2 separate regions of the Homo sapiens genome follow, and region 2 is linked to region 1. Evidence: fine-mapped expression QTL. A gene starts in region 1. The other region holds a variant in brackets. All regions are shown on one strand. Distances are from middle to middle.

The links. PIP is the estimated chance that this variant, and not a neighbour inherited with it, causes the effect.
Region 2: its variant is the best candidate, but not a certain one, in a credible set for the expression of LINC01727 in whole blood (TOPMed, PIP 0.77).

The regions. Positions count from the first base shown.
Region 1 is chr20:21,562,091-21,577,934 of GRCh38, forward strand. It overlaps LINC01727 (long intergenic non-protein coding RNA 1727), which reads left to right and starts at 7,934. Exons shown (of 4, transcript NR_109880.1): 1 at 7,934-8,158. RefSeq lists an enhancer at 12,162-12,662.
Region 2 is chr20:21,540,370-21,556,213 of GRCh38, forward strand. No RefSeq gene overlaps it. Among named protein-coding and RNA genes, the nearest start is that of BETALINC1, 18 kb to the left of the region's middle. The variant T/C (reference allele first, on the strand shown) is at 8,267.

The DNA.
Region 1 (15,844 bases):
CTCAGGCAAAGGTAAAACAGTCACCAGCAGCTCCAGGCCTATGTCTTGCCAACTTAGCACCTTTTCTCAAGGGTTTCAGCAAAAGTCTCAGCACTGACTCTCACTGGACTATATTATGCACCCATCACTGAACCCATTACTCACTGGAGCAGACACAGATTCTGTGGATTGGCCAGACTTGAGTCTGGTTTCTGCTCCTGAAGTGGTGAGGTATCACCTACACCTAAGAGTTGAGGAGGCATGGCTCTCCAAAGCATGTTGTCAGGAGCTATTACTAGAGAACAAAAGTATGCTGGGAAGGAAAAAACCCACAGTGGTCCTCCCAGATTCATCTGCATCAGTGGTGATCAAAGTGTGTTCCCTGAATCTAAGGGGAAGCATCAACATCACACGGGAGCTTTTAGAAATGCGATTCATGGCTGGGTGTGGTGGCTCACGCCTGTAATCCCAACAGTTTGGGAGGCCAAGGTAGGAAGATAGCTTGAGGCCAGAAGTTTGAGACCAGCCTGGGCAACATAACAAGACCCCATCTCTACAAAAATTTTTAAAATTAGCTGGTGTGGTGGCCTGCATCTGTGGTCCCAGCTACTTGGGAGGCTGAGGCAGGAGGATTTTTTGAGCCCAGGTGTTCGAGGCTGGAGTGAGCCATGATTGTGCCATTACACTCTAGCCTGGGAGACAGAGTGAGACATTATCTCTAAGAAAAAAAAAAAAGGAACAAGAAAAAGAAATGCAATTATCAGGCCCAGCTGTGCAGTCACTGATGTAAACCAGAGGCTCTCGACCGTGATTTCAATTTGAATCACCTGGGGTATATTACACCATCTAGACTCTACTCCCAACCAATTTTACCACGGCAGGGAGGGGACGGGGATCCAGTCACTGGTGTTTTAAAAAAATGTTTCTCCAAATAATTCTCATGGCAGCCAAGGTTGACAGAACCACTAGCTTAAACAGACTCTTGTTCTCTGCTACTTCTCACTTATGAAATGGCAGTAAATAAGACTGTGGACAGTTTTTCTGTTGAGAATGGTGGTGCATTAAAAGAGCTATTACTAGACTTGGGAGATGGCAACTTGAGCTGAGGATGTGACGGTTTTTAGTTTTTTTAATACACATTAAAATCAATATAGAACTGATTAAAATTTCTTCTGAGTACCAGCTAAAGTTACCTTGTATGCTATTAAGTATCCCTGGTGTAGGGGCAGGAACACTGGATTTGAATCCAGAAGACTTGCAGTTGAAAGCCAAGTTCGGTGATAGCTTGGAGAAGCCATGAAATCTCTCTTTATTTGCATGATGGGAAAGATCTCAGACACCTTTAAACCCCAAACAGAGAAACAGGTGGTGGCTTCAGTGGAGATGATGAGTGGGGTGAAGGCAGCCATTAAAGACAAGCACAAAAACCAAAAATACAAACAGGCAGTGGGATGGTTAGAATAGGATTACAGAATGTCTGTTGCTTTTTTTTCTTTTCTTTTTTTCTGGAGACGGGGTTTCACTCTGTTGCCCAGGCTGGAGTACAGTGGCACGATCTCAGCTCACTGCAACCTCAGCCTCCTGGGTTCAAGCAATCCTCCTGCCTCAGCCTCCTGAATAGCTGGGACTACAGGTGCACGCCAACATGCCCAGCTAATTTTTGTATTTTTAGTAAAGATGGGGTTTCACCATGTTGGCCATGCTGGTCTCGAACTCCTGATATCAAGTGATCCACCTGCCTCAGCCTCACAAAGTGCCGGGATTACAGGCATGAGCCACGGTGCCCGACCCACCAGAATATCTGTTGCTTTTGATGGGCTCAGTTTTGTGGAGAATTGTGAAAGTCTATGTGGAGGAAGGATCTCAGGTGGAAAAGAGGAAGAAATGACATTGGCGAGCTGGCTAGGACTGAGGGTACATGATGGAGAGAGTATGCAGGAGTTGACTGAATCCAGAAAAGTTTTGGATTTGGCTTAATTCAGGCAGGAAGTCAGCCCCTGAAGCAGACGTGTGACTAAACGAAGTGTGAAATGCAGGAGAGGCTCAGGGCAGAGATGACATTGGGAACCCAAGAAAGGGGCTGGAGAGCCCAGATGGCAGGCAGTGGAGGCCTTTCCTGGGTATTCCCACTGGGAAAAAAAAGGAAGGAAATAAGAGACTCAAGCGACTTTGAGGAGAGAGCGACTGTTTTAGTGTGGAGATGCTGAAGACCAGCATTTCAAGCTTGGGGAGCTGGATGGGTGGGAGGTGGCGGGGTCAATAGAGGGGAACCTGTGGAATGAGATGATCTGGGGGGAAACACCTGTGCGAATGGCAGGGGATAATGTGTAAGAAGGACAGGGTGCTTGTCCCTCAGGGACTCTGGTCTAATGGAGTCTTTCCAGGGCTGAGTGCCAGAAAATAGACCCAGGCTCTGCCCCAGGTTTCCGGCCGGCTGCACTTCACCATGTGCCCTGTTGGACTCTGACCTCCTGTTCTCACACCGAGACATTTTAGCCATGGTCAGTGTTTATTTAAGTTACTTCCCCTTGAGTTCACTGGCACAAAACACTGCCCGGTAGGCAAGTACTGCCTGTGCCCCATGAGGTCTGGGACAGTGCCCGCGGGTGTGCGTCCAGGGGCATCAGGAGTGCAATGTCCAGGCTCTCTGCTCCGTGCAGAGGCTCCTGCAGAGCCAGAGCGCTACGAGGGGGAAGGGGAACGTCTGGTTTACATTTTAATTTTAAAGATACTATTCAAATGCGGTACCGTTTTTTCAGATCCGAACTCAATTTTGCCCGTTTCATATTAAATTAGTCATCTCATAGTTTGCATTCTGTTTTGTCATTTGGAATTTTAAACACAAATAAAAACTCCACGTGGTCCCATGGAGACAGAACTGAAATAACTCAAAGTTTGCATCTTCACCTCTCTAGGCATCCTGCTATCATTTTTTATTTGGAATCCACCATTCATGGTGAATCTGCAGCATCCCAGGGCTTGTCTTGTGATTGCACCTGAAGGAAAGGCAGCTCAGACAACACAGCCATAGAAACCCACTTTTGAAACAGCCTGAGTCCACATGAGTCAGGTGCCGGCTGTAGAACTGAGAATTCTCTGAATTAACTTCTGAATAGGATGCAATGTTTATTAAAGGATCTGTAATAAAAAGATGCTATTTTGAAACTTACATTTATTTATATAAGATTATAACTTATCAGTAATCATCATGAATTATTTAGACCTTTGATCAACAAAATATTTTTTTTCTAGAGAGGAGGATTTTATTCCTGATCTCTTTAAGAATTGCTGGACCATGATAATAAAAAGCAGAAAAGTTTTATCAGGATTACTATTATTGTTAACTTTTCTACAGACAATGCCCCAGTGACCTGCCCTTGGTAGATCACTGACTCGCAAGGTGGTTATGAGGATTAAATGAATTAAAACAATTAAAGCACTTAGAAGAGGGCTTGATATTAGCTATTACTGTTTTTTCTACAACACATAAATCCCACTGCTAAAAGAATCCACAGGTATTTGATGAGGGCTGCTCATGAATCTCAAAAATCCTTACATTAAGAAGGTGGAAATAGGCCAGGCACAGTGGCTCATGCCTGTAATCCCAGCACTTTGGGAGGCTGAGGTGGGTGGATCACTTGAAGTCAGGAGTTCAAGACCAGCCTGACCAACATGGTGAAATCCCTTCTCTACTAAAAATACAAAATTAGCCAGGCGTGGTGGTGCACACCTGTAATCCCAGCTACTCAGGCATGAGCCACCGTGCCTGGGAAGTTTATTTATTTTTATTGTTTGTATGGTATTGTATTGTATGACTATGCCTCCATTTATTTATCCATTCTACAGTTCATGAACATTGGAGTTGTTCCAGATCTGGGCTAATAGGAACACTATGTTAGTTACCTTTCCTTGGTTACTAACAGGGTTGGGCATCCTTCATATGTCTGTTGGCTATTTGGATTCCCTTTTTTGAAACGCATATCAGGGTTTTGGGGGCCCATTTTTCTATGTTTTGTTTATTCCTTACTGATTTATAGACATTCTTTATGTAGTTTGAGCTCTCTGTCAGTTTTATGTTCCCCTAATATTTTCTCCCACTCTGTGGCTTGCCTTCTCGCTCTCTTAATGTTGTCTTTCGATTAACAAAATTCTTATATTTAATGTACTCGAATTTATCAGTTTTCTTTAACCTTCTAAAAGCTTTTTTTTCTTGGTCTTTTCAACTTGGTTTTCACATATACTCCACCTGGAATTGAATTTTGTATATGGTTTGAGGTAGGGGCCTCATTTCATGTTTTCCTTGTGGATACTCAATTGTCCCAGCCACATACATTTTTAAAATAGTTTTTTCTCTATCCTCCTTCAATTTTATCTTTGCCATAAATCAAGTGTCCATATATATCTGGATCTCTTTAAGAACACTCTATCCTATTCCATTAATCTATTATCTGTCCTTGTACAAACACTAGGCTGCTTTAATTAATGTAGTGTTATTTTAAGTTGATACTGGGCAGAGCAAATCCACTCTCTTCTTTGTTCTTCAGGAATAGCTTAACCACTTTTGGTCTTTTCATTTCCATATACATTTTAGAATCTGCTTGTTGGGATTTCAGTTGGGATCAGTAAATCTATACACCAAGTTCATGTAGGATTGGTATTTTTATGACATTGAGCCCTTCAGTGCATGAATATGGTGTTGCTTCTCATTTATTTAGGTCTTCCTTAATAAAAATTTACAGTTTTCTGCATAGAGGTCTCGAAATGTTTTGTTAGATTTATTCCTAGGTACTTGATATTCCTTTCAACACAAATGTAAATGATATATTTTTCTTTTAAATTAATATTCTAGCCATTTGTTACTAACACAGAGAAATGTAGTCGATTGTTGTGTAATGAGTAGCCTTGTAAAACTCACAGTTTCTAATATCTTATTCTGTCAGTTTTCTATGTATTCAATCATTATCTTCAAAATAAGAATACTTTTGCTCTTTCCTTTTTAAATCTTTGTGCATTTTAGTATATTTTTCTTGTCTTACTCTATTGGCTGAAACCTCTACTCTAAATGTTGAAGGGAAGTGGTTATTATGGGCATCTTTGTCCTCATCATGATTTCCAGAGGAAAGTATTTAATATTTCATTATTAAGTTAGATGTTTGCTGAAGATTTATTGTAGGTAAACAATATCACATTAATAAGTCCCCTTCTTTTTCTAGTTTGTTGATAGTATTTATTTTAAATAATAAATGAATGTTACACCTTATACTTGATTTTTGGATCTGTGAAACAATCACGTTTTTGCTTTATATTCTCAGTGTGATGAATTATATTGATTGATTTTTTTAACATTAAGTCAGCTTTGTGTCTTTGAGATAAACTAAATTTAGTAATGAAGTATCCTTCTATTTCATATCCCTGGATTCAGACTGACTTTTTCTGTTGTTTAGAATTTTTGCATCTACGGTCATACATGATATTCATCTGTCATCTCCCTTCCACTACGAATTAAGGTTTCAAGTCTACACTAGTCTCAAAAATGAGTTGAAGAATATACTTTCTTCCATTTTCTGAAAGACAGTCTAAAAGATTGGAGTTATTTCTCACTTAAATATTTTGTGAAATTTATACATATGCAACTTCATTACCTAAAAAGGGCCATCTTCCAAATTACATTAAAATTTACACAATTACATAAAATTTCAATTGTAATAAGTTATAATCATGTAAAATTGCAACCACATAATTAAAAAATTTAAAATGACAAATAGATAAAAATCACATAAATTACAATTTTATAAAAACTACATAATACATTACAAAATTACATGACAAAACCTTCCTCAAAACAGGCTTTGGAGTCAGACTGTCTCTGTATGAATTTTGGCGCTGAGGACAGGCTGTGCAATCCTGTGCCAATCTCTTTACTCCTCTGACCTCTCAACGTCCTTATCTACCATGGTCCCTCTACCTCCTTCAGATGTCAGGAGGAGTAAATGAAACAATGATATGTAAATCAATTTGCCCTGAGCTTGGTCTATAAAAGGTGTTTAATATTTGGTAACAACGTTCATGATTATATGTTAATAATTTATTCACTCAAGTGTTTATTGAGCATCTATTGTGGGGCCAGGCATGCTGGATACTGGGAAAGCAACGGGAGGCAAAATTGGATGCGGCCTTTCATGCACCCGGAGCAAGGATTCAGCGTTTGTTCCCGCAGAACCATGACCCACCCCCACTGAAATGAAATGGAGGCCAGTGTTTACCGGGCCACCTCTGCGTACCTCTTTTGAGCTCTGCATATTGCTTTTGTGCCAGATGGGCAAGAATAAATGAAAGCAGCCATTTCTGCTAGGGAGCAATCAGAGCTTAATATTGAGCTTTTTGGAAACTGACTCGTAGCAGTCATAGGCAAGGGCCACTTCCTTGAGGAAATGAATGAAGACGTCTTGCTTTTCCTAAGCTAGGTTCCCCGTTTGTATTTCTTGACAAGGGCCAAATGTGTCATACAAAGGACTGTTTTCATTGTCCCTGTTTTTCAGTTTCCTCCAAGCCCTACCAGCTTCTCTGCTTCTGCAGGAAGTTTACCAGGAAACAGGTGCACAAAAGGAAGAATTTGCTGAGGCCCTGGCAAACTGGAAACTGAATCCAGGTGGCCAAGGTCTAATCCTCCCCTACACCAGGTAATTTCTCTCCCTTGCATCTGATCTTGTGAAGTCCATAGTTCTCAGGTGGCCCATGGCTCCTCCAGTACTTCTGGAAATCTTTGCACCAGTGCCTTTTTTTTTTAATTTTTTATTTTTTGCCATACATGGCTTTGATTCTCTGCTACACATTTCTCAGATGGTTTTATGAGACCTCAGGAATAATACCTATTTCTTGGCTTTGTGTGAGGACTCAGTGAAACATGTTAGGAATGCTGTGAAGTCTGGTTGGCAGTGCAGAATAAGGGCTCATTTATTGGACTGGTTGTTGGGTCAGGTGGGGCAGTCTATCTGTAGATATACAGACACATAGATCAATGAACATACAGATGGAGATACAGCTATATAGATAGATGCACATGTACACATACATATAGTGTATTCACATACATGTATTAATTCAACATTTTTTCTTTTTTGAGATAGAGTCTGAGTCTGTCACCCAGGCTGGAGTGCAGTGGTGCGATCTCGGCTCACTGCAACCTCTGCCTCCTGGGTTCAAGAGATTCTCATGCCTCAGTCTCCCTAGTAGCTGGAATTACAGATGTGTGCCACCACCACGCCTAGCGATTTTTTTTTTTTCTATTTTTAGTAGAGACAGTGTTTCGCCATGTTGGCCAAGCTGGTTTTGAATTCCTGACCTCAAGTGATCTGCCCTCCTTGGCCTCCCAAAGTGCTGGGATTACAGGTGCGAGCCACTGTGTCTGGCCTAATTCAACACTTTAACAAATAATCCAGTGCCTACTATATGCAATTCACTGTATTCATATTTACATGAGTGGATCAATTATTAGTCCTATTTGTGAAATCCAAAAAAAGAATCTAACATTTGAATTTACGTAAGAAGTGTTGGAAAAACTGTTTTCCCAAATGAGCTAAGATGGAGGAATGGGACTTTTAGGAGTCGGCTTCACAAGTTACCTGCTAATCATTGATCTCAATGTAGGCTAATCCCAGGCAGTGAGAGATGGCCATTCGAGGGCATCACTGCAGAAGACCTGGCATTCTGCCTCCTTTTGGAGTCAGACTTTGGTCCCCTGCAGTGTTTGCCATTGTGGGGGCATCAGATGCTGATGGGCAGAATGAATGTGGAGGAAGTTGGCTTCACTAGGGCAAGGAATGAATGGCCACCACTGCTTTTGTGCCAAAGGACTAAGCCTCCCTGGGAGAGAGGACAAGAACAGGCTGGAGGAGGGGTGCCCTTCATCATCTTGTGAGCATCTGGGCCAAGTTCAGGGCTGGTGCTCTCGTTCAGATAGATTTAGCTGGTGGTGCAGAGATCCGTGAGCTTGCTTTTACAGGACTTTAATGATATATAAAAGCAGCACGAGGTGCTCCTGACTGTGGATTAATTTGGAGATGACTTTCTCTGTTGAAGAGTAGCAAGACTCTCGCGAGTTCTTAAAAATGCACTTGTTTGGTATGAGAATGAAAAGCAGTGGCTGAAGAACCAATCTTCAATGGGCAAGCCTTCTCTGGTAAGTTAAACAAATTCAGGCTGGGATTTAGAGGAATTCGTGCTTGTGTAAGGATTAGGGCATGCCAAAGTGAAAACTCCAGTATGCAAAAGTATTACTGAGAGGTGATTTAGAAATACAGATACTTGCGTTTATTTGACAGATCTGGAGCAGTTACTGTCTGCTGCAAAGGTTGCCACTACGGATGCAAGAGGAAAGGGCCCTCATGATTTCTGTTTGATTGTGGCCACCAAGACTAAATGGCGGAATGTAGGAATTACAAAAGCATGGAGGAAGGGAGGGAATTTTTGCAACTCATGAATAACCTTGTAAATGGAAAAGCCTGCTTTACCCCTGAAAAAGGAATAAAAGACTTGAGTTTACATGAGAAGTGTTAAAAAAAATTTCCCGTATACCCTTGCCTTCTGGTTAATTCCATTTTAAAATTGTAATTTAAAGCTAAATTAAAAGTAAGCCAATGTTGTGGAGGCGTGGAGTGGAATACAAGTACCTGGGCCCCACTTCCCAAGATCTGGATTTAGCTGGTCTGAGATAGATCCTAAACTCTGAATTTCTAACAAGCTCCCAGGTATGCTGATGCTGCTGTTCTGCACGTCATACCTGGGGTGGCACTGAGTGAGAGGTTGTTAGTTTTCCATTTTTGAAGGTATTGAGCAGAGAATGGTTCTCAAATTTGGCTGCATTAGAGTCAACTGGGGAGCTTTAAAAAAGCCCTAGTATCCTGACTGCATCCCAGATCAACAACAGCAGAAAGTCCCATAAAAGCAAGCTCATGGATCTCTGCACCACCAGCTACATCCATCTGAACAAGAGCACCAGCACTGAACTTGGCCCAGATGCTCACAAGATAATGAAGGCTGTGGGGTTCAGGCATCTGTATTTTTAATAGCTTCCCACATAGTTCAATGTGTAGCCGAGGTGAAGAACTGCTGCTCTAGGAGGAAATTATTTGAGGCAACGGCAACCAAAGGTCTTAGTCATCATGAGGTGTCAGAATCACTTTGGAGACCACGAATATTTTGTAACGCTTCCTGTCCTATCTTGAAATGAAATTCACAGATTGTATAATCTACTTACATGCATCATTACAAAAAGTTCTTTCTGTAATATAAAGGAGAAACAAAAGAGAAGTTGAAAAAGGTAACTTTTGGTAAACACACACACACACACACACACACACACACACACACATATTCGATAGGTAAATGCTTGGGCACAAGCTCTCTAGAAGACGTAATAAAGTATCCAGGTGTTTGTCTTGTAAGAATGTGATCCCGACAACCCCAGAGCCAGGCCAAGCCTGGAGCACAGGACCAGTGACTCAGACACTACCGGCTTGGCGTCATGGTGCCGTGGTTTTCCATACTGGTGAAAAACGCTCAGTAAATTTCTAGGCACAACAACACACGTTGACTGACTCTGGGTTCCTGCATATTCCGCTCATACTAAACCAGGCGATAATGCTCTATGATTACGTGTCAGAGAGTTAGGGCCTAGGGTAGGTAATTAGCAACTGGTTGTTCACCGACATGCATTTCAGGCTGAATTTTGAGCATTTCAGAAATTCTAGCTTCCCTCTTCCTCCCCCAAATGCGAAGATGTCTCCACTATAATTGAGCAATCACAAACGGCCCCTTCCAATGTCTCAGGGCTCCCCGTTGAACACCCATGTGGAATAAGGAGTGAAGGTGAGCTCACTGAAATGCACTCGATGCCAGTTCCACCTTCCACACCGGAGCAGCGTCCCGCAGACCAGGGCTGGTGGGCGAAACTGGTGGGCAAAATGGGGTGGGCTGGATAAAGGACTCCCACCCCAAATGGCTGCAGGGGCCTATTTGAGGGAGTGGAGAGAGAAGGGTTGCGGGCTTCCAGCCAAGCTTTACCCTCACTGAAAGTTCAGGTTCAGGGCCCAGTCCCCCAGCGTGAAAAAGGGACCCTTATAAAGAGGTAAAGGGGCTTCCTTCAAATCCCCTGCACCCGCGCCCCCTCCCTCAAAGATAATCCTGGGAAATATTTAGCGATCTCCAGTGCCCTCTAGTGGCAGATACTTGTCATGCCAGGCACCAAAAGATGGTTAATAATTTTTATTGTTTAAAAACATCACACAAGCCCATGCAGGTTCATACAGTAACAATCTCAAGCTTTCCTGCATTTCCTTTTATCATCCCGATCTTACTACACCCCTAGAGAACATTTACATTCCTTTCCTATGCATTTACAAATGATATATATGTATATTATATATTCGTTTCTATATGTTACACAGAGATGTAGACATGTAGAAATATACATTACATGTGCACATATGAAGTGTATGACTTATAAATAAGCATAAAATATATTTTGTATGGCATATATGTGTATATATTTTATATTTACAAATGTAAAAATATTTTAAAACTTTATATAAATATATAAAAATATAATACATTTAATTCTATGCTTTATACAATATGTTTATATAAAGTTTATGCTTATATTGATAATATATTTTTATGTACTATATAAAGTCTGAAAATATATTGTATAAGGTTTATTTTTATTTTTATTTATTTATTTTTGAGACAGGGTCTTGCTCTGTTGCCCAGGCTGGAGTGCAATGGCACAGTTCACTGCAGCCCCGAACTCCTGGGCTCAAGGGATCCCCCCACCTGAGCCTCCGAAGTAGCTAGGACTACAGGTGCAAGTTGCCATGCCTGGCTAATTTTTTGTAGAGACAGGATCTCCCTGCGATGCTCAGGCTAGTCTTGAACTACTGGGTTCAAGCAATCCTCCTGTCTTGGCCTCCCAAAGTGCTTGAATTACAGGTGTGAGCCACACACCCGGCCTGAGGTTTTTAAACACAAAGTGATCTGACTGTTTTACCGCTGCATGCTGTTGTGCAGTGTGGAAATAATCTGATTTGTTTGATTTTTCTCCCCTACAGATGGACATTTAGATGCCTTTCATTTTTCTTCCATTGCAAGAATACTTTGTACATATATGTGAGTTTTTCTATAAGAAACACTTCCAGCTTTTCATTTAAGTCAGAGACTCAAATCTGAAATGCAAAAGCTTGTAAAACTGTGAAGTGTTAAAAATCATCCCGCCAAAGGAGTGAGGTGAAGGGAAGTTTTATAAAATTGGAATGGAAGGAAAAGGCTGGACAGGAGTGGGATGGCGTGGCTGAGAGGGAGATAGGAGGCTGGGTATGGATGAGGAGTGGGAAGTGTGGGATGGCGTGGCTGAGAGGGAGATAGGAGGCTGGATATGGATGAGGAGTGGGAAGTGTGGGATGGCGTGGCTGAGAGGGAGATAGGAGGCTGGGTATGGGTGAGGAGTGGGAATTGGGAACACCGTTTTCACCTAAAGCTGTATTCAGGGCCTGGGGTTTTTGTTTTTGTATTTATTTAGAAAATAGATAAAACTTCTATCTGGTTCAAAATTCGACAACAACAGAAAGGTGTTAGATCTCATCTTCCTTATTCTTCTGTCTTCCAGCCGCTCCGTTCTCCCCAGCAGAGCCAACTAAAGTAATCAGCGTCTTCTGTATCCTTCCACAGATAGTACATGCATAAGCAAAAAGAAAAAAAAAAGTTTCTTTCTCTTTCTCATTTTCCCTTCAAAAACCACCAATAATTGTACCTGACATACATAGCCTGCCCCTTTTCTTCATTAAATAATGGGAGATTATGTCATTAGGAAGAAACAGATTTCTTCATTCTCTCTGCCTGGCATTCCATTATGTGGATGAGGTGTTATTTATTTAAGCAGTCCGCACCTGAAGGACATCTTGGTTGGTTCCAATCTTTGCTATGACAACAGTGCCACAATGAGTAGCCTTGTACAACTGTCATTATGTGCATGTGTGGGGACACATGTAGGATACAGTCCTGGTAGTGGAATTCCTGTCTCAGAGGGTTTTTTAAAAAGAACTGCAAGTTGCCGTCTGTGGAAGCCTTGCCAGTTTGTACCCTTGTGTGTTCTGCTTCACCTCTACCAGCACCGGAGTCACTGAGCGTTATGTTATTTGCCAACTGGATAAGTGAAAAATGGTATCTCAGGGCACGTTATGGGACATGTTAAAGTATAAGTGCAGCCAAATATCTTTTCAAACACTGATGAGGGGCCCTGGAGTTTTAGTGCCTTTCTTTAGAGGAATTTTAGGTGCTGGTCTTACTGACTCGGAGCCTCTTCCTCAATCTGCATCGCCTTAGCTGACCCCAGTGCACTTTAGGGCATTACGTGGATTTGGGGTTTTCTCATCCTGCTCTCCTTCCTTTGGGAGTGGCCTCCAAGGCAGCTGTCTTCCCATTCCCCTTGCTTCCCTCCTATCTCCGTCTCAGCCACGCCATCCCACTCCTGTCCACAAGCCGGGTGCATGAGCCATTCCAGAGGGACTTTACCTTGCTGGAATAAGCGTGGTAAGGGGCCTGGGTGTTGTGGTCCTCCCTCCTTGGGCTCTGGTGCTCTGGTTCCCAGACTGTGACCCACGATCCTCTCGCGTCCAATGTGCGTGACCTCTCCGTCCGATAGCACAAGCAATTCTCAAACAGCCACTTGAGCTGGACGCCCCCGGACATGCCCTGCACTTTTCCAGCTTTACATCCTGGCCTGTGTTGCCCCCTCCATGTGTGATGCCCTCCTTGAGTCCGGCATGGGTGCACGGCTGCCCGCTCCAGCAGGTCAACCCTCGGGCCCATGAACTTCCCCTACACAAGCTCTTGTGGCACCAACTGTCTTCCTAGGTGGTGGCCACACCAGGAAACATTTCCCAGCCTCTCATTGCTCTTGAAAATTGTATCATCAAATAGCAGCACATGTTAAACAGTTAAGAAGAAAATTAACATGCAAAATTAACAGAAGAAGAAAGAGAAAATGCAATCTGCCCAAAGCTGTTCTTGACAATTTTTGGAGTGATTTAATGTTATTTTAAGTTTTATGAAGAAAGTACAATCTTATCAATATTTGTATCTTGCTATTTCATATTCACTGCAATTTAATATGTAAAAGTTACCACAGGGACACTAAGTGGTAAAGAGTTAATGGTCTTCCCTGATTCCCACTGCCTGAGGCCAAATTTCCATCCACGCCAAGCATGCTTTTCAGCATCTCCACCTTCAACTGCTGTTATCTGTCTGCCCTAGCTTCTTCCAGCGCCCCAGGGAAAAAGCTGCATCACATTTTGGAGGGAAATAAAGAAAGAGAACTAAAGACCTATTGGATTTCAGCCTTTGGTTGGTGGTTAATAACCTAGATAGCTCAGGCATTTTCCAGGCTGGAGTGCAGTGGTGCCATCATAGCTTACTGCAGCCTCGAATGCCTGGGCTCAAGCAATCCTCCTGCCTCAGCCTCCTAAGTTGCCTAGTTAATTTAAAAAATATTTTGTAAAGACAGGGGCTTCACTATGTTGCCCAGGCTGGTCCCAAACTCTTAGCCTCAGGAGATCCTCCTGCCTTGGTATCCCAAAGTGTTAGGGTTATAGGCCTGAGCCACTACACTTGGCCCAAGAATTTAATTAAAGAGGTGGGATGAGCAAAGAGTTCCTGGAGGGAAGCTAGCTTTCACCTGCCTTCCTGCTACCTGGAAGGTGCTGTTTATGAATTCAGGATTCATCTGTCCACATTGATGGTTTTCTTAGCTTGTGAGGTTACTGAAACACCATTATTACAGATAGAAAACTTTCCCCAGTGGCCCCTTGAGACAGGTTGAATAATGTCACTTAATCTCTATAACCTTCCTCTTAAATAGGCATGGTCACTCTCTCTTTTAATGATGAGAAAAACGGGAGAAGAGAAGTCCATAGAAGGATGGAAACTTGGCCTCAGGCGGTGGGGCTCAGGCCCCTGCTCTGTTCTGGTTCCATGCACTTAGTGGATGGGAAGACCACTAACTCTTTACCACTTAGTGTCACTGTGGCAGCTTTTACACATTGAATTGCAGTGAATATGAAATAGCAAGATACAAATATTAATACAATTGCACTTTCTGCATAAAGCTTAAAATAAAGTGAAGTCACTCAAAAAAAGGTCAAGAACAGCTTTGGGGCAGATACCTTCCTTCCTTCCTTCCTTCCTTCCTTCCTTCCTTCCTTCCTTCCTTCCTTCCTTCCTTCCTTCCTTCCTTCCTTCCTTCCTATGGAGATATTGTTACAGGGAGGCCTATGGGATCCTGCCTAACTAGTTTTGGAGGCAAATGCTATGTGGGGGCTTGTAGGAGGCAGCGCTGTGCTTGCTGGAGTTAAGCTCTAACCTGAGTTGGGTTTGCATCCAGCTGCTGGTTGGTCCAGGGAGGTCTCCAGCTGCTGCTTGGAAACCAACAAAAACAGTAGTGAGTTCCAGAAACGTTGGAGTAAGGTGGTGACTTGGTGATAAAAAGTATTTCTGGAGGAAAGGGAAAACACTCCCATTTTATTATCTGTGAAATCTGGTGGCCAATGAAACCACTTCCCACTGACTTGGGTGGGGAAGGCAGATACTTAGATTCACGTTCCCAAAGGAGAACATTATGCAATGGAAGATGTAGCTTCACAGTATATCCCACTCTGTCAGGACTCTGTGCTGCATATAAACTCTGATGTGAAAAGCATTCTTCCTCCCTGGGATTGTGCAGTTCCCAGGCTGGGCAGCTGTATACTCTAGCCCTGGATAGGTTGATTTGTTTAAGGAAGGCTGTTTGCTAGCAGGTATACAGAGATAATGCATTTTATATGCAGAGTTAGTCTCTTTTAAAAAGAGAAAGCTGAAAAAGCCTGAAGACATAAAAAACAATCTATTCACTCCTGCGCCTCTCCCTTCTGCAGACACAGAACTTCCCTGGCAGCTCTGATCTGGGGGCTTCCTGTAGGTGCAAAGACCTGGTTCTTCAGACTCCATCCATGGAAGGAGGGAACACCAGTCACGGGGAGGTGGGCTCTGCACTGGGTTCCAGACACAGCAAAACAGGGCCTGGCATAGGTAGGAAGGGGAAAAGGAGGCCCTAGTCAAAGGGCAGGGCAGCCTCAAAGTTGACCCCAAGGCTGGGACCAGGGGGTACTTCTGCTCCTTTCTGTACCCAGAGTCAAAAGAAACAGTTCATTCCTCTTAACCCTTTCATTGAATCCTCCCCGCAACTTGGCACCCCTGAAACCACATAGAGAAATCACTTCTGTTGTAAACCCTTTCTTGGTGGCCCCCTGTGGCAGCAATGACTTAAAGCCTCATCACTCATGATAGTTGTGTTCTATAAAGCTGCCACGAACACTGAACTAGTAGACGCTGAATCGTTGCTCCTAGGAGAAGCATAGGGTTAGATTCCTGCTGGCCTCTGGTCATGTTTTGTCAGCTGATCGGTACATAACATCATTCTATGTATGTTTCTGTTGACAGATGCCTTGTTGGTGGTATAGTGTGAATCCATTAGCACTGAACTCAGGACCAGCAATGGTGTGACTCAGGCCTGAAGGAAGCTTTTCTAGCACATGGATTTCCTCTGTAAGGCACCTCACAGCCTCTCGTGCCTGGGAACTCTAGCCAGCACTGTAGCACGATGCCTAGGGCCATTATAAATGTGAAATCACCAAAGAAACCCCACAAAAATGTGAAAATCACGGCACTAAATAGACCACAAAAAGGATGCTTGTTTGACTGCAAACAAGTATGAGAACTGGAACCAGAAAGTAGGATGTCATCTTGTTCTTCCTTAGCACTGGATGACTCAAATTTCTCT
Region 2 (15,844 bases), 22 kb before region 1:
TAAAGAAAAAACCCAAGCACTGGTTCTTTGAAATAATCAGTGATGTAGATAAACTATCAGTGGTTTAATTTAAAAACACATTGTTATGGAGAGTTGTGCAAAACCCACTCATGTAGTTCAATCTATTAATAAAGCAATGAAGAAAAATTATACTGGAATCTCAAGAGTTGCTCAAAGTCACTTAATAAATTGTAATGCTCGATATGCGGGGGGCCCTTCAGGCCTAAGCTTCATTAGCTGTATGCAAAATCCACCGAACTTTGCCTCTGGATCCCAGGGTCCTGCGGGGACAATTCAAGTGTCTGCCTAGCATAGAGTTATGCTTGCCTTAGCCGAGGGATGTGCAGGAGAGAGTGGCTGCGGGAATCTCCACAGGACTCAAGGCAGTGTCCAAGAGAAAATGTCCAGTGCATACCTGCCAGACAGAGGGGAGCAACTCCTAGCTGAGTAAGGATTGCTGAGTGCCTGGCCTCTTCCCCACATGCCAGTCATATTCACCCAGGTGGGTTCTGGGGAGGAAGCTTGGCCCAAAACAATGACCAGGAAATGGAGGAGGAGGTGGGCATAGACAGGTGGAGAGCAGAGGCTACCCACACTTGTGCCTGAAGGGGATATGAAGACGAATATGAGAAAGGTGGGGAGAAGTCTAACTCTTGACTGAGGGAAGCTTTTGATAACTAACTGGACACCCTGATTTATGACACTGAGACTTTGGCTTAAAGTGTTTGTAAGACTTCTGCTTCCCAGGAATGAGCTGAAAAATCAGAGGCTCTGGTGGAGTTTCCATCTGTGGCAAGGAAGGATTCCCCCGCACTGAGTAAAGTGAACAGGGCCAGTGGGAGATAAAAGTTAGGTGTGTTTTGCTGTCATCCTTCTCTCAGTTTATCTCTCTTCTTACATTTTACTATAAATTGCAAGAAGAGACCAAATGATATCTTCAGCTCTTTTCTTGGAAATCTCTTTAGACAAACAGGTTCATCAGAAGCATATTATGCTTTCTATGTAACTGCAGATGACAACTTTGCTAAGCTTTCTGCCACTACATAACAAGGATCCCTTTCCTCTAGCTTCTAAGAACATGCTCCTTACTTCCTTTTGAGCCCTCACTGGCGGCACCCTCAAAGTCCAGATTTCTACTCACCAGTCTTTAGACTTTTTCTATGATGCCACTCAAAATCCTTCCCGCTGCTGTTCACTGCCTAGTTCCAGAGCCACTCTTACATTTTAATTTGTTATGGAAGCACCCCACTTTCAGGTACCAGAATCTATACTAGTTATCCATTGCTTCATAACCAATTATAGTAAACTTAGCAGCCTAAAAGAGCACACATTTATTTCCTCACAGCTTTTTGTCTTTTGTATTGTATTGTATTGTATTTTATGGAGACAGGGTTTCACTTTGTTGCCCAGGCTGGTCTGAATCTCCTGGGCTCAAACAATCCTCCTGCCTCAGCCTCCCAAGTAGCTGGTAGTACAGGCATGTGTCACCACATCCAGCTAATTTTTTTTTGTAAAGATAGGGAGGGTATTTCGTTGTTGCTCAGGCTGGTCTTGAACTTCTGGTCTCAAGCAATCCTCACTCCTCAGCCTCCCAAAGTGCTGGAATTACAGGCGTGAGCCACCATGCCCAGCCTGTTCACAGTTTTTGAAGGTTGGGGATTCAGGCATGGCCTAGCTGGATTATCTGTTCTAGGGTTTCTCACACAGCTGAATCAAAGTGCAGACCGGGGCTGGGGTCTCATCTGAAGGTTCTACCAGGGGAGCTTCCACATCCTGGCACACAGTAGGATTCAGTTCCTTCTGGATTGTTGAATTGATGGCTCCAGCTCCTAGCTGGCTATTGGCTGGAGGCCACTCACAGTTCTCACCATGTGGGCCTCCTCAACATGGCAATTTGCTTCATCAGAACTGACAAGGAAAAGAGTCTACTAGCAAAACGGAGTCACAGCCTTATGTAATCTAATCATGGAAGAAGCGTCTCATCATCTTTGCTATATCCTGTAACTTTACAAGATAAAGTTTTGTAACTGGCCTCTGATGAAGAGTTGAAGATGAATTTTGAAAATAGTCTTACTTCAATTGGAATAAAAATTTAAAGTGAATATTATAAATTTATTGAAATTGTTTAAAGAAGTTCCTAAAAAGGTACCTTTGTCAACAGGTTTCTCTACTGTGAGTGTTATTCAAGCCAAACTAGAAATGGTTTAGCTGTATATTATGCCCTGTGAGCAGAACTGTTGTCAATCCAATCTGGGTTATATATGTTAACAAGCGAGAAGAAGGCTCGTTTGCTGTATTAAAAACTTTACATATTTTTCTTTAGTTCTCTTTTTGGTTATGCATTGCTATAGAACAAACTACCCTCAAGACTTAATGGCTTAAATACAAGAACCATTTTATTATCTTTTTTTTTTTTGATACAGGGTCTCAGTCTGTTACCCTAGCTAGAGTGCAGTGGTGCAATCATGGCTTATGGCTCACTGCAGCCTCAACCTCCTGGGCTCAAGCAATCCTCCGACCTCAGCCTCCTGAGTAACTGGAACTACAAGTACATGCCACCATGCCTGGTTAATTTTTGTATTTTTTGTAGAGACAGGGTCTTGCTATGTTGCCCAGGCTAGTCTTGAATGCCTGGGCTCAAGTGATCCTCCCACCTTGGCCCCGCAAAGTGCTGAGATTACAGGCGTGAGCCACCATGCCTGGCCCATTTTATTATATCTAGTGATTTTTTATGTTAGGATTTCAGACATGGCTCAACAGGCAATTCTGCTTTACCTGGCATTGGCTGGGATCCCTGGGTATTATTCAGCCAGTGGCTACTCTGGTCTGGAGGGTCTAAGACATTTTTGCTCACCTGCCTGGAGCCTTGGAGGGGATGGCTGGAAGACTGGGCTGTACCCCAGATAGAATCAGGGTTTCTCTTTGTGGTCCCTCCAACAAGGTCACTAGATTTTCTACTTGATGTTGTAGGGTTCCAAGAGAAAGGAAGTAGAAATTCCCAGCCTCTTGAGGTTCAGCTCCAGAAAGTGGTAAAGCATGACTTCTCCCACATTTCATTGGTCAATGTGGTCACAGAACCTGTCCAGATTCAACGGGAGGGGACACATCCACCTCCCAGGGGAGGACTGTTAAAGGAGGTATTGCCCAGATTAACTGTCCCACAATTGTAACTGCTGAGCAGCAAAAAGCTTAGAGTGTAATTGCAATTGTATACGATAATTGCCTATACACATCTTCTCAAAGGAGCATGTCCAGTTTTTACAATTGTTTTTTTCCTCATTATGTTAGTTTTGATTATATTTACTGAAATGTATGTTCCCTCTGATTAACCTAAAAATAAAGTTTGGGCTTATATTTTTAAAATTTTATTTTTCTGATAATTTATTTTTGTTGTATTTTACAAAAGTGTGAATCTGAGGATGATAAAAAATTTAGAAAACCCTGGTTCTTACCCTCAGATAGTTTGCATAGTGCTATTATAGAAGATAAGAGAGTTAAATTAGGAAGCAATGTATACATGCTTCCCCCCTTATCATGGGGCTACCCCCCAGCAAACCCATTGTAAAGTTGAAAAGTCTTAAGTCCAATGATCATATATCAGAGACCATCTATACTGGATGGACTATCTGATGGATTGGAACAGGAGGGCAGTGGGGAGGGAGCCAGAACTCAGCCCCTGCTCCTATTCCCAAGCCCAGCTGTCTAGGACCTGGGCGTCCATTCAGAATAGGGATAACTGTTTATTCTCACAGACATGGGATTTGCTCAGCAAACCTGCATGGCTGTTCCCCAGCAGAGTGAGTGCTTTTTCCAAATCTTCCCAGAGAGATGGCTATCCATGGTCAAGCCATGAGCTGTCCAGCCAGAGGGGCAGCCATCTCCAGTTGGCATGGAGGCCCATAGATACTTGTGGCCATGTGAATCAGAGTCCTCATGGTCATCATAAGTGGGACATCAGAGAAAAAGATATTCAGAGTGTGTTAGGCTGTTCTTGCATTGATATATTTTATAATGAGCAATTATAGACTGGGTAACGTATACATAAAAGGTTTAATTGGCCCACAGTTCTGCAGGCTTTACAGGAAGCATGGTGATGGCATCTGCTTGGCTTCTAGGGAGGCCTCAGGAGGCTTACAATCATGGCAGAAGGCAAAGGGGGATAAGGCACTTCACATGGTGAGAGCAGGGGCAAGAGAGAGAGTAGGAGGGAGGTGCCACACACTGCTGAACAACAAGATCTCGGGAGAACTCACTCACTATCGTGAGAACAGCAACAAGGGGATGGTGCTAATCCATCGTCCAATCACCTCCTCCCAGGCCCTGCCTCCAGTACTGGGATTATAATTCAACATGAGATTTTGGCAGGGACAAATATCCAAACCATATCACAGAGTTAAATGTAAAGGCTTGCATTTGGAAAGCCATACCCAACAGCACAAGGTTGGAGGAGAGATGACATGGAAAAGAGGGGCTTTAGTTGACAGTAAGGTCAATATAGGTCAAGATGTCTCCCCCCACCAAATTAACTTAAAAAAAGAGAGAATGTGTTCTTAGATTCCGGTCATGGAAATTCATATCTGGAACAAAGGAAGTGAGAGTTCCACTGTATTCCACCCTGCTGAGAAAATGTATTCATCCACTCATCAATTATGAATGAGCTATCTCCTGGGGTGGATGCTAGGAATACAGAAATGAAGGATACGAGGCTAGCCCCGGGGATGCTGCTCTGTTTCTATTAATCAGAATTTGGTATTCCTTCGTGGGATACCTGCAGAGGGGTTCAGTTCTGATGTTACCCTTTCATGGGGATGTGGAAAATTAGAGTGAATCCCTGAGGACAGAACTGGGATGTGAAGGACTCAGATGATCACATATAGATGATATGTAAAGGAACGGACGATGTTTGATTTAGTGAATAAAAGAGAGGGGACTCTTGTTGCTTTTTTTATGTCCAACACTTATGACCAATCTGAAAGCCACTAGCCATATGGGACTATTTAAAGCTAATTAAAATACAATAAAATAAAAATTCAGTTTCTTAGTTGTAGTAGTCACATTCCCAATGATCAATTGCCGCAGGTGCCTAATACTGGAGGCACAGATGTGGAATATTTCCATCGTCACCGGAAGTTCTATTGGAAAGTGCTGGAAAAGGCTTCCATGTGGGAGATAATTTATTATCTCCATGCTTTATTTAGATGTGAGGGTTGAAATAATGATGATAGATCACTGAAAATTAGAGCAGAATAGATTTTAACTTTGTATTAGGAAAAACTTCTGAGCAGACATAGCTGTCCAGAGACGCCTGCAGGCAGTAAATCCCCTGTTACTCTAAGAATTCAGCTCAGGGTGGCCTGACTGAGATGCTCTGTATGATTGCTGGGGCTGGCCTTTCTCCCCTGGAGTATTCTCCGTGGTGTGGAAGATGTTCTTTATCACATGCCTTTTCTGTTCCAGGGGCTCAGCTCCATGCCTTCCCTGCACAATCACATTTATCGTTTCATTGCAATTCTGCAAGTCAGGTAATATTATCCCCCCTTTTACAGATAAGGAAACTGAGACTCAGCCAGATAAGTTGTTCAGGTTCCGGTAAGTGCAGTGATTCAATGGATCCAGGTTGTCAGATTCCAAAGCTTGTAACTGGGACAACTTAATTCTGATTTTTTAAAATTATGCTCAGTAAATATTAGTTGATTGAACAAATTGCCTCAAGCACATGTTAGTTTCTAAAAAAACAAACAGTTTTTTTGGGTGGCTTATATCTCAATGAAAGTAAAAATAAATTATGTACAGAAGAAAGGATATTAATAATAAAACATTAACATCAGTTAATAGTTCTTGGTAGAATTAAAGGTTTTTTTTTCCTATTTGTCCTTTTTTTTTAAATTGTTGTTTACTCAGCAAAACAAACAAACAACTTAAGAATGGAATATGGGCCCTGAGATAACTTAGTGCCTACACAGAGTATCAGTCAACTGTTGCTGCATAAGAATCCACCCCCAAAACATAGTGACTTAAAACAGCAGAGGTTTATTACTTCTTGTGGTGGTGTGGATTGGCTGGGTGTTTCCTTTGTTGGCTTCTCCAGGGCTTTCCTCTGCGGTTGTATTTAGCTTGAAGCGGGTGGGACTGGAAGGTTTACATGGCCTCACTCAGTGCTGGCACTTGGAACTGTCAGTTGGGGTAGGCTCTCCACGTGGCCCTTGCCCTCCAGGAGATTTCACCCACTTCCTTACAGAGTAGCTTTCAACATCATCAAAGGGTGTTCCAAGGGGCAAAGGTGAAGGTTGTAAGTTCCCTTGCAGCCTAAGCTCTGGACCATGTCACGTTCTGTGGCTCAAAGCCAGCTGACTTGAGGGATGGGGAAATAGAATTAACTTTTTGATGGGGGGAGCTGCAGGACATTACAGCTATGTTTTTAAAAACCTTCCATTTATTGTAAAGCATGCATTTAACCTCACAGAACAGGGCAGAGAATAGTCTAGGGATTGTCTCAAATACCATCTTGAAATGTTGGATTAATTTTTTGGTGGTCTGTGGATAATTTCTTTAGAATGTTCATAGCTGCTATTCATGGTATTCTTACCTCTATATACATCCTATTTTTGGCCTGTGATGGCTACAATATAATCCTGAACATTCAAACACCTAGGCTTTTCCCTTTTGAATGATTACGCTCAAGTAGAAATAATAGATGGAAACCAATAGTTTTTATCCAAGTGAAGGCACTCTAAATGATATTTTCAGGAGGGATTGATGATTGGGAGATAAAAGAAATAAAAACATGATCAAGGAAGCAAACCCAAATGTTTACCAACAGATGAATGGATAAAGAAGTGTGGTATATAGACACGTACAATGAAATATGATTCAGCCTAAAGAAGAAACGAAATTCTGTCGCATGCTGCAACATAGATGAACCTTGAGGACATTATGCTAAGTGAAATACATCAGTTACTAAAAGACAAATACTGTATGACTCTGCTTATACGAGCTACCTAGAATGACGAATTCATAAAAACAGAAGGTAGAATGATGGTTGCCAGGGGCTGGGGAGGGAGAATGGGGAGCTGTTGTTCAGGGGGCACAAAGTTTCAGCTTTGCAAGATGAAAGACCTCTGGAGATCTGCACAATAATGTAGATATACTTAACCCTACAAACCGTACACTTAAAAATGGTTAAAATGGTAAATTTTTATGTTTTTTTTAAGCACAGTTAAAAATTTAAAAATGAAAAAAAACTTGATCAAGGGCAAAAAAAAAAAAAAAAAAAAAAAAGTAGTGCATTCATTCAGAGGTCTTATCCCAGAGTACGGTTCCCAGCCATGGTCTACTTCTGTGCCTTTAGTTCTGGAAGCCTTGCTTCCCAGTGAGAACAGAATCAGGAGACCCTTTGAAAGAAGAAAGTAAGACCGGGAGCAGTGGCTCACGCCTGTAATCTAAGCACTTTGGGAGGCCGAGGTGGGTGGATCATAAGGTCAAGAGATCCAGACCATCCTGGCCAACATGGAGAAACCCTGTCTCTACTAAAAATACAAAAATTAGCTGGGTGTGGTGGCACACACCTACAGTCCCAGCTACTATGGAGGCTGAGGCAGGAGAATCGCTTGAACCCGGGAGGTGGAGGGTGCAGTGAGCCGAGATCACGCCACTGCACTCCAGCCTGGCGACAGAGTGAGACTCCGTCTCAAAAAAAAAAAAAAAAAAAAAAAAAGGAGGAAAGTAAAGGAAAGTAAATAATATCTGGAGAAGATAGGGTTCCTGTCTTAGAAAAGCCCAAATGCAGCCTGTTGGTTGGAGCAGTTGAGTTAGTAAGCCACTCCACAGTGACCAGAAGACCTGCTTTATGCCATTTGTTTTAACTACGTTGCCGCGTAGGCACCCACTCAGCTGAGGGCCTTAAATGCCACCTGCAATAAAATAAAAACCTTACAGTTGCCAACCATTTCATCTGGTTTTGCCCTGAGAATCTGCAAATCCTCTTCCATTGGTCAGAAGTTTCACAGCTGAAGAGATAGGTAATATTCTTGATGAAGTCAGTTCAAGATCAAGACAATGGAAATTTCTTGCAACGACTTTCATCTTCTGTGTCTATTGGTCGCATAACTTAAGCGTGTTGGTATCTCTGTTAGTGGTGAAGTCGGCTGCAAACCACAAAACACCTGACTGCTACGGAAGATATTAACAGGGACTTTTTTCCTTCTGCATAACAGGAAGTCTTGAGTAGGTAGTCGAGGTTGGGTAGAGGACACTTCTGTTTCAATTC[T/C]ACATCCCTAGGGCTTTGGAATATGAATGATTCATGTTGCCTTGTGGTGGCTAAATGGCTACCGTCCCCTGTCCCTGGAGGCCTCACAATTCTTTTCCAGGTAGGGAGAAGGGGGAGAAGGGTGGAGCACACTAAATGGCAAACAAATGTACCAGCTGAGTCTGTGTGTTCATCTGGAATGCAAAGCTTTTCTGGAAGCCTCTCCCAGCAGACATCTCGCTGGCCCAAACCAGAACCCTACCCTATGACCACTGCTAGCTGCAAAGTGGCTGGGGGACAAGAGGGTATTTTTGGAGTGGGCTTGCTCAGGCAGGTAACAAGGCTACTGAAGTTAGTCATTAAAACCTTCTTTTTTTTTTTTTTAGACAGATTCTCACTTTGTCACCCAGGCTGGAGTGCAGTGGTGTGATCTCTGCTCACTGCAACCTCTACCTGCTGGGTTCAAGCAATTGTCCTGCCTCAGCCTCCCGAGTAGCTGGGATTACAGGCGCCTGCCACCATGCCCGGCTAGTTTTTTTATTTTTAGTAGAGACGGGGTTTCACCATGTCTGCCAGGCTGGTCTTGAACTCCTGACCTCAAGTGATCTACCCTCCTTGGCCTCCCAAAGTGCTGGGATTACAAGTGTGAGCTACCACGCCCCGCCCATCAAAACCTTCTTAAAGGGGCACACATCCATATAATGCCCCCCAACTCCACACACCACTGTCTCTCCAGCAGTCACAAGCTGGAAATGGAGCTCCACCCTTGTGGCAGGGAATGCTTGTGCATAGGCCTCTGAACAGCCAGCCTATGCCTACCATCCACGTCCCAGGTCCTACTTCTAATAACTTCCTTTACAATGATAAATCCCTTAAAGATGGGAAAATTCTCATATCTCAATCTATTTGCAGGTATACCATACCTTGAATTTTGTTTGTGCTTAATATATATTTGCTGATTTTCTGAAGTGATTGAATTCTTTTCCTCTAAAGACAATTCCAGACTGTTCCAGGGGTGAACCTTGGGAATGGAGAATGGGAGCACTTCTTAGCTGGATCTTAGGAACATTGGAGTTTTCTACCAGATAACACTGAATGACATTATCTTTCTGTAAGTTCTCTGTTATGGCTGGTGCTTTAAGCTCATGCCTCTCCCTCCAGCCTCCATCTCTTGCTGGGTCTCTGTTGGCAGGTGTGTACCCAGGTACATCCAGTAGCTGAGTTGGTGACAGAAAGAACTGAAAAAACACAATCTCCAGCCTCCACATGATGAAAATCACAGGGTTGTTTAAATAGAGGGGGCTATTAATATAGATTTGTCCTTTTCTCCCTCCTTCTGCTTAATCATTGTCAGGAGGGCGGTAGAAAATAGTCTGCACACCAACAAGGCTCTGGAATAACTAATTGAATACTATAAACTTCCACCCAGGATTACAAGGAGGGACAGTTGCCTCTCCAGGGTGCTCATTTTGTTTCCGGATCCTGGCACAGGTTGGTCCCAGGCTCCTCTGCCGGGGCGACTATGTCCAGGGCCTTTGGGAACCACGGGCTGATTTGTATGTTCTCATTGTAACAGTTTCTGAAGCCTCAATTTCTGAGGTCTTCCATGGCACACTATAATTTCAGGATTGACAATGATGCTGACAAGAGTGAAAAGAAAACATATTTAGGGAAACAGGAATTTCTCTCAACCTTTATTTTGACATTCAGCAGTAGATGATGGATGTTTTAAATTACTCTTGATAAGAAGCTATCAGTAGGAGTTATTTTGTTTCACAGATACCTGGCAGGTCAAAAACACACTCAAATTGAACAAATATTCTCAAATTAAGTACGGGGAATAGTAAGGCCGAGTAGCTCATGCTGCAGAGAGGAAGCACATCTAAAGCTACAGTGAGTGCTCAAGGGAGCAACTCCTACATCATTTCCACAAGAAGCAAAGAAGAGACAATGGCTGGGAGTCAGAATGGAAATTAGGTGCTTGCTAGTTTAATCTGGAGAGCTGGAACTGACTTAAGGAAGAGGTGGAGAAAACCTACCACCCGGGCTGTCGGGAAGCTGGGGAGCTTGGACTGAAAGAACACGTTGTTTCAAGGACTCTTCATTTTCAAATGTCTTTCACAATTTACTTAATCTCTCCGAGGCCTTAGTTTCCTCATCTATAAAATGGGCTGGTAATATCCTCATTGTTGCTGTGAGGGCCAAGGAAGTGATGCATATGAAACTGCTTTGAAAACTGTGATGTACTCAGCTACGTGGGAGACTGAGGCTGGAGGATTGCTTGAGTCCAGGAGTTTGAGGCCAACCCAGGCAACACTGAGAGACCCTGTCTCAAAAAACAACACAAGAAAACAAAACTGTGATGCATCATGCAGCTGCTTTTCTTTGGATAAATAATATTTGCTAAGTAAAGATAGTAGATGTTCCTCCTTTGCAAACCATTTTCAACTTCTAACACAGCTATTAGAAGTTGTAAGTTACATATATAAAATTTATATTATTTGTAAATAATATTCATTGTGCAAACATTTACTGAGCACCTCTGTGTGCCATGCACTGTGCTTGGTGGCAGAGATATAAATCCATTGATAATTTTCTCACTGTAAATTCCTACAAGTTCTTTCTTTCTTTTTCTTTTCTTTCTTTCTTTTTTTTTTTTTTTTCTGTGACAGGGTCTTATTCTGTCACCCAGGCTGGAGTGCAGTGGCACAATCATAGCTCACCGAAGCCTCAACCTCCTGGGCTCAAGTGATTCTCTTCTCTCAGCACCCGCAAGTAGCTGGACTACAGTAGGGGCATGCAACCATGCCAAGCTAATTTTTGCATTTTTTGTAGATGTGGTTGTGCCATGTTGCCCAGGCTTGTCTCAAACTCCTGGGCTCAAGCCATTTACCCGCCTTGGCCTCCTAAAGTGCTGGGATTATAGGCAGGATCCACCACGCCGAGCCCCTATAAGTTATTTCTTTAAAATTATTGGGTTTACATGGAATACTATGCAGCCATAAAAAAATGAATTCATGTCCTTTGCAGGGACATGGATGAAGCTGGAAACCATCATCCTCAGCAAACTAACACAGGAACAGAAAACCAAACACCACGTGTTCTCACTCATAAGTGAGAGTTGAACAATGAGAACACATGGACACAGGGAGGGGAACATCACACACCGGGGCCTGTCAGGGGGTGAGGGCAAGGGGAGGGAGAGCATTAGGACAAATATGTAATGCATGCAGGGCTTAAAACCTAGATGATGGGTTGATGGGTGCAGCAAACCACCATGGCACATGTATACCTATGTAACAAACCTGCATGTTCAGCACATGTATCCCAGAACTTAGAGTAAAATAAAATAAAATAATTTAAAAGATAAAGTTATTGGGTTAAAGTAAGTGCAAATTTTAAAGATTTTTTATGTGTATTAACCAAATTGATTTCCAGGAAGAGCTTACTCTTTCATAGTTTATGAGAAGTGTTGGTTTTTCTGCCCTTTTGACAACACAGGGCATCATTTGAAATTTTTGTGCTGTCCTGGTTTATTATTTTAATTTTCATTTATTTTGTTGTTAATGCAACTGGATTTTTAAAAAATGTGCTTAATGTATTTTACTATTATAATCATATTAAATTAGTGTTTTGTATAAAGCGCCCACAGCAAAACCAAGCAAAAAAGAATATTGTCCTGTCTCTTTCTTCTACTTGCTGGATCATGATTCTCATGAGTGGATGAGAAGGAAGCTGTGGGCTTTGGCAGGTCTAGAGAGAAGCTTGAAGTGACATCTAGGAAGGAGGGTCTCCCTTGGAGTCTTGGAGGGGCCATCGAGGGCTGAGAGAGACCGTGGTGGGGCAGACAGCACTATCCAGCCTCATCCACAGAGGTGGCATTTTCCAGGCTCTGGCTCCTATAAAGGTGTGGGTGACTTCTGAAGCTGGATCTATGGGCCACCCCACAGGAACAAATGGTCATGGTTGGAAATTCAGATGCCTTGGGAAGTACCAGTGAAAACACTGTCTAGTGGCTGTCTGCTACTCCTGGTTGCTTGAAAAATTTTTTTTGTGTGTTTGGTAGAATACATATAAAATTTCCCATCTTAACCATTACTAAGGGTACAGTCCAGTGTCACTAAGCACATCCATATTGTGCAACCATCGCCACCGTCCATCTCCAGAACCTTTCATCCTCCAGAATGGAAACTCTGTATGCATTAAACAATCACTCCCCATTCCCTGGTCCATGCAGCCCCTGGCAAACTCCATGATATGAATGGAGGCTCTGTCTCTATGAATGTGGCCACTCTAGGTACCTCATATAAGTGGGATCCTACAGGATTTGTCCTTTTGTCATGGGCTTATTTCACTAATGTGTTCAAGGTTCATGCGTGTTGTAGCATGTGTCAGAATTTCCTTCCTTTTTAAGGCTGAATCATATTCTGTTTACTCTTGCAGCCCCCTTTGGGGCCTTATGAGGCTTCTATGTTCATGGAGGTGCCAGCATTATGCTGGGGACCCAGCCTAAGATGAACCCACCTGGGAAAACCTCATGGAACTGAGCTGCAGAGCCTTCCTCACGGTCCTCCCCCTCCATCCCTCTCAGGTCCCCAAAGGAGACCAGGAGGCCTCTCCTGATTCATCTGAGGAGGGTTTGGTGGGCTGGGAAGTGTCCTTCCACTTACTTGGAGCTTTTCGGCAGCCAAATCTCTATCTTTCTCCGTATAATAGGTTCTCTCCCTGTTTTTGCAGGGAGTTGGTGGTGGGATTTGTGACAGTATGGAAATAGTAAAGACAGGCCCAAAGGGTAACCATACAGGAAAATATCTATTACCAGGTGAAAATTCCCCTTTTAAAAAAATGTGGGCTGGGCACAGTGGCTCACACCTGTAATCCCAGCACTTTGAGAGACTGAGGTGGAAGGATTGCTTGAGCTCAGGAGTTCAAGACTAGCCTGGGCAACATAGTGAGACCTCATCTCTATAAAAAAAAATACAAGAAATTGGCTGGGCATGGCGGCATGCACCTGTCCCACCTACTCAGGAGGCTGAGGTGGGAGGATTGCTTGAGCCCAGGAGCTGTGATTGTACCACTGCATTCTAGCCTGGGTAATCCTGTCTCCAAAAAAAAAAAATGTGTAGAGTTTGAACAGTTCACTTTTTTTTTTTTTTTTTTGAAATGGAGTCTCACTCTGTCACTCGGGCTGGAGTGCAGTGGTGCAATCTTGGCTCACTGCAACCTCTGTCTCCTGGGGTCAAGCAATTCTCCAGCCTCAGCCTCCCGAGTAGCTGAGATTACCGGCACCCACCACCACACCCAGCTAATTTTTGTATTTTTAGTAGAGACAGGGTTTCACCACGTTGGTCAGGCTGATCTAGAACTCCTGACCTCAGGAGATCCACCTGAGGGATTATAGGCTTGAGCCACCAAGCCCGTCCGCACACATTTTTTTAAAGAAAGAAATTTATGCACACCTTTTTGGAAAAGCAGGCAACTGAGATGGAATGGTCATTCTAGTCCTGTAGAGGATTTAAAAATATGAGAGCACTTTTGCCTTCTCCTACTCTCATGAAGCTGAAATCGTTTATTTATATAACTCCCACCTTTGGCGTGAACTTCAAATTAGACATAGTGTTATCAATTAATGTAAGAGAAACCCATCCAGAGAGGGGAGTGAGGCAGCTATAAAACCAGGTGGAATTGAATGCTTATAAAAGAGGTTCGACAATGTGATCTTCATGTCCTGGACTCCTGGGAGATTTTCCTTGAACTGGTTCACGTAGTCAAAAGCCTTACATTCTTTTCTGAAGGACAGTTGAGATCATTTTAATCATAATGGAGACTATATGCCGTGAAAGTCTTTAAAAGAATGAGAGGGAGAGTTTGCACGGTGAAGGATATAGAGCAGGCTGGCTTTGAGCTTACATTAGCATGCACCACCTCTTGTCTGGAAGCACCGCGTACCCTCACTAAGACTCATGATAACTACGAAAAGTGAAGCGAGGCTGGAAGAGAGGCCACGGATGTTAAGCATGTTAACATTTCCATTACATCTAAAAGCAGAAAATGGAACAAATAAAGCAGGTTGGGTTTTCTTCCCCCAGTATAATATATGCCAGAATGTCACAAGAACTCATTGTCTGCAGTGAATACAAAAATATGGGCAATTCAGGCTGAACAATGGAAACGTTGGTGATTCCATAAAAGCATCCCATTCGCATTAAGTTCATCTGGCTTTGTTTTATCCCTATTTTTTCCCCCAATAAAGCTGTGTCTTGAATAATATGATCTTTAAAGTTTAAGCTGCATATAGAAGTGCTTCTTCTTTTCCTCTCCACTTTCTCTGGTTCTGAAATGCAAGAAATGCAGAATAAAAGACAATTGAACCATCGTATTTGTTTTTTCTGCCCCTTCTCTCCAGTTAAATGCTGTTGTGATTTTGATGTAAACATCCTAGTAATTTTCACAGGAAGTGGGTGCAGGGATCCTAGCAGTGTGTCTGTTCAATGGTACTGTTAGGCGTCTTTTTGTTCAAAGGAGGACTTGTTCCAACGCCCTGGCACTGATCCAGTGCAGGCAGCCCGGGGACTTGGTGGGCCACCAGGGCAGGTGGTCCAGGAGCTGGACTGTGCACTTAGAGGGGAGGCTGGGTGGTCTTTTCTTTCTACTCGGGATCTCCTGCTCTTAGAAGACCGGCCTTTTGGGATTGAGTCTTTGAGGACTCAGAAGTGATTTTGACCTTGAGCTGACATTTTCAGAGTGAACGAGCTTGCTGAAAGGATGGCAATGTGCAATGTTTGGCTCTCCCCATGATTACAGAGTTGAGTTTAAGAGACAGAGGGAGTAAAAGAAGATGACATTTGAGTTTTTGTGAGTCTTCATCTTATTCCTTTCTGCCTCTCGTTGGAACTGACTGCCAATTCAGAACAAAACAAATTGTGAAAACTCCCCTCCTGTGTCACTCACCCCTGGCCCTCGGGGCCCAGAGTTGGAACAAATTAGGATGGCTTTTGACATTAGGCACAGGACATAAAGCCACAAAAAGTTTGTCTATCCACAAAGAAGCAGAACCTTTGGGTAGACCCATACACCCATACATATATCTACACAAAACACTGTGTTTTCAACCCAACAAGAAAATCATATTTCTCAGTTCTGTTTGACTTCCTCAGCCTTGTTTTCTTATCCCTGTTTCCTTCCTTCCTCCCTCCCTCCCTCCCTCCCTCCCTTCCTTCCTTCCTTCCTTCCTTCCTTCCTTCCTTCCTGCCTTCCTTCTCTTTGCTGATCCTTCTGAGTCTTGAGCCAGGATACAGGGCAACACTCAAGACTGTCCTCATGCCCTTTCCTTTCCCCTGTGATGACGACTCCCAGACGTGTTTCTCAGGCCTGCAGCTTGAGTGCACATGATGAGCTGAAGGCTGGAAAAGTTGAGAGGCCAAATCAGTTCAGAAAATTTATTAATTTAAATTTTTTAATTTAAAAAAGGATTTCATATTTTACCCAAACAGAAATGATCGATACCCATGTACCCGCCAGCTTAATCTGACTGATGTTAATATTTCCCCTGTCTTATCTTCGGATCTCTCTCTCTCTCTCTCTCTCACACACACACAC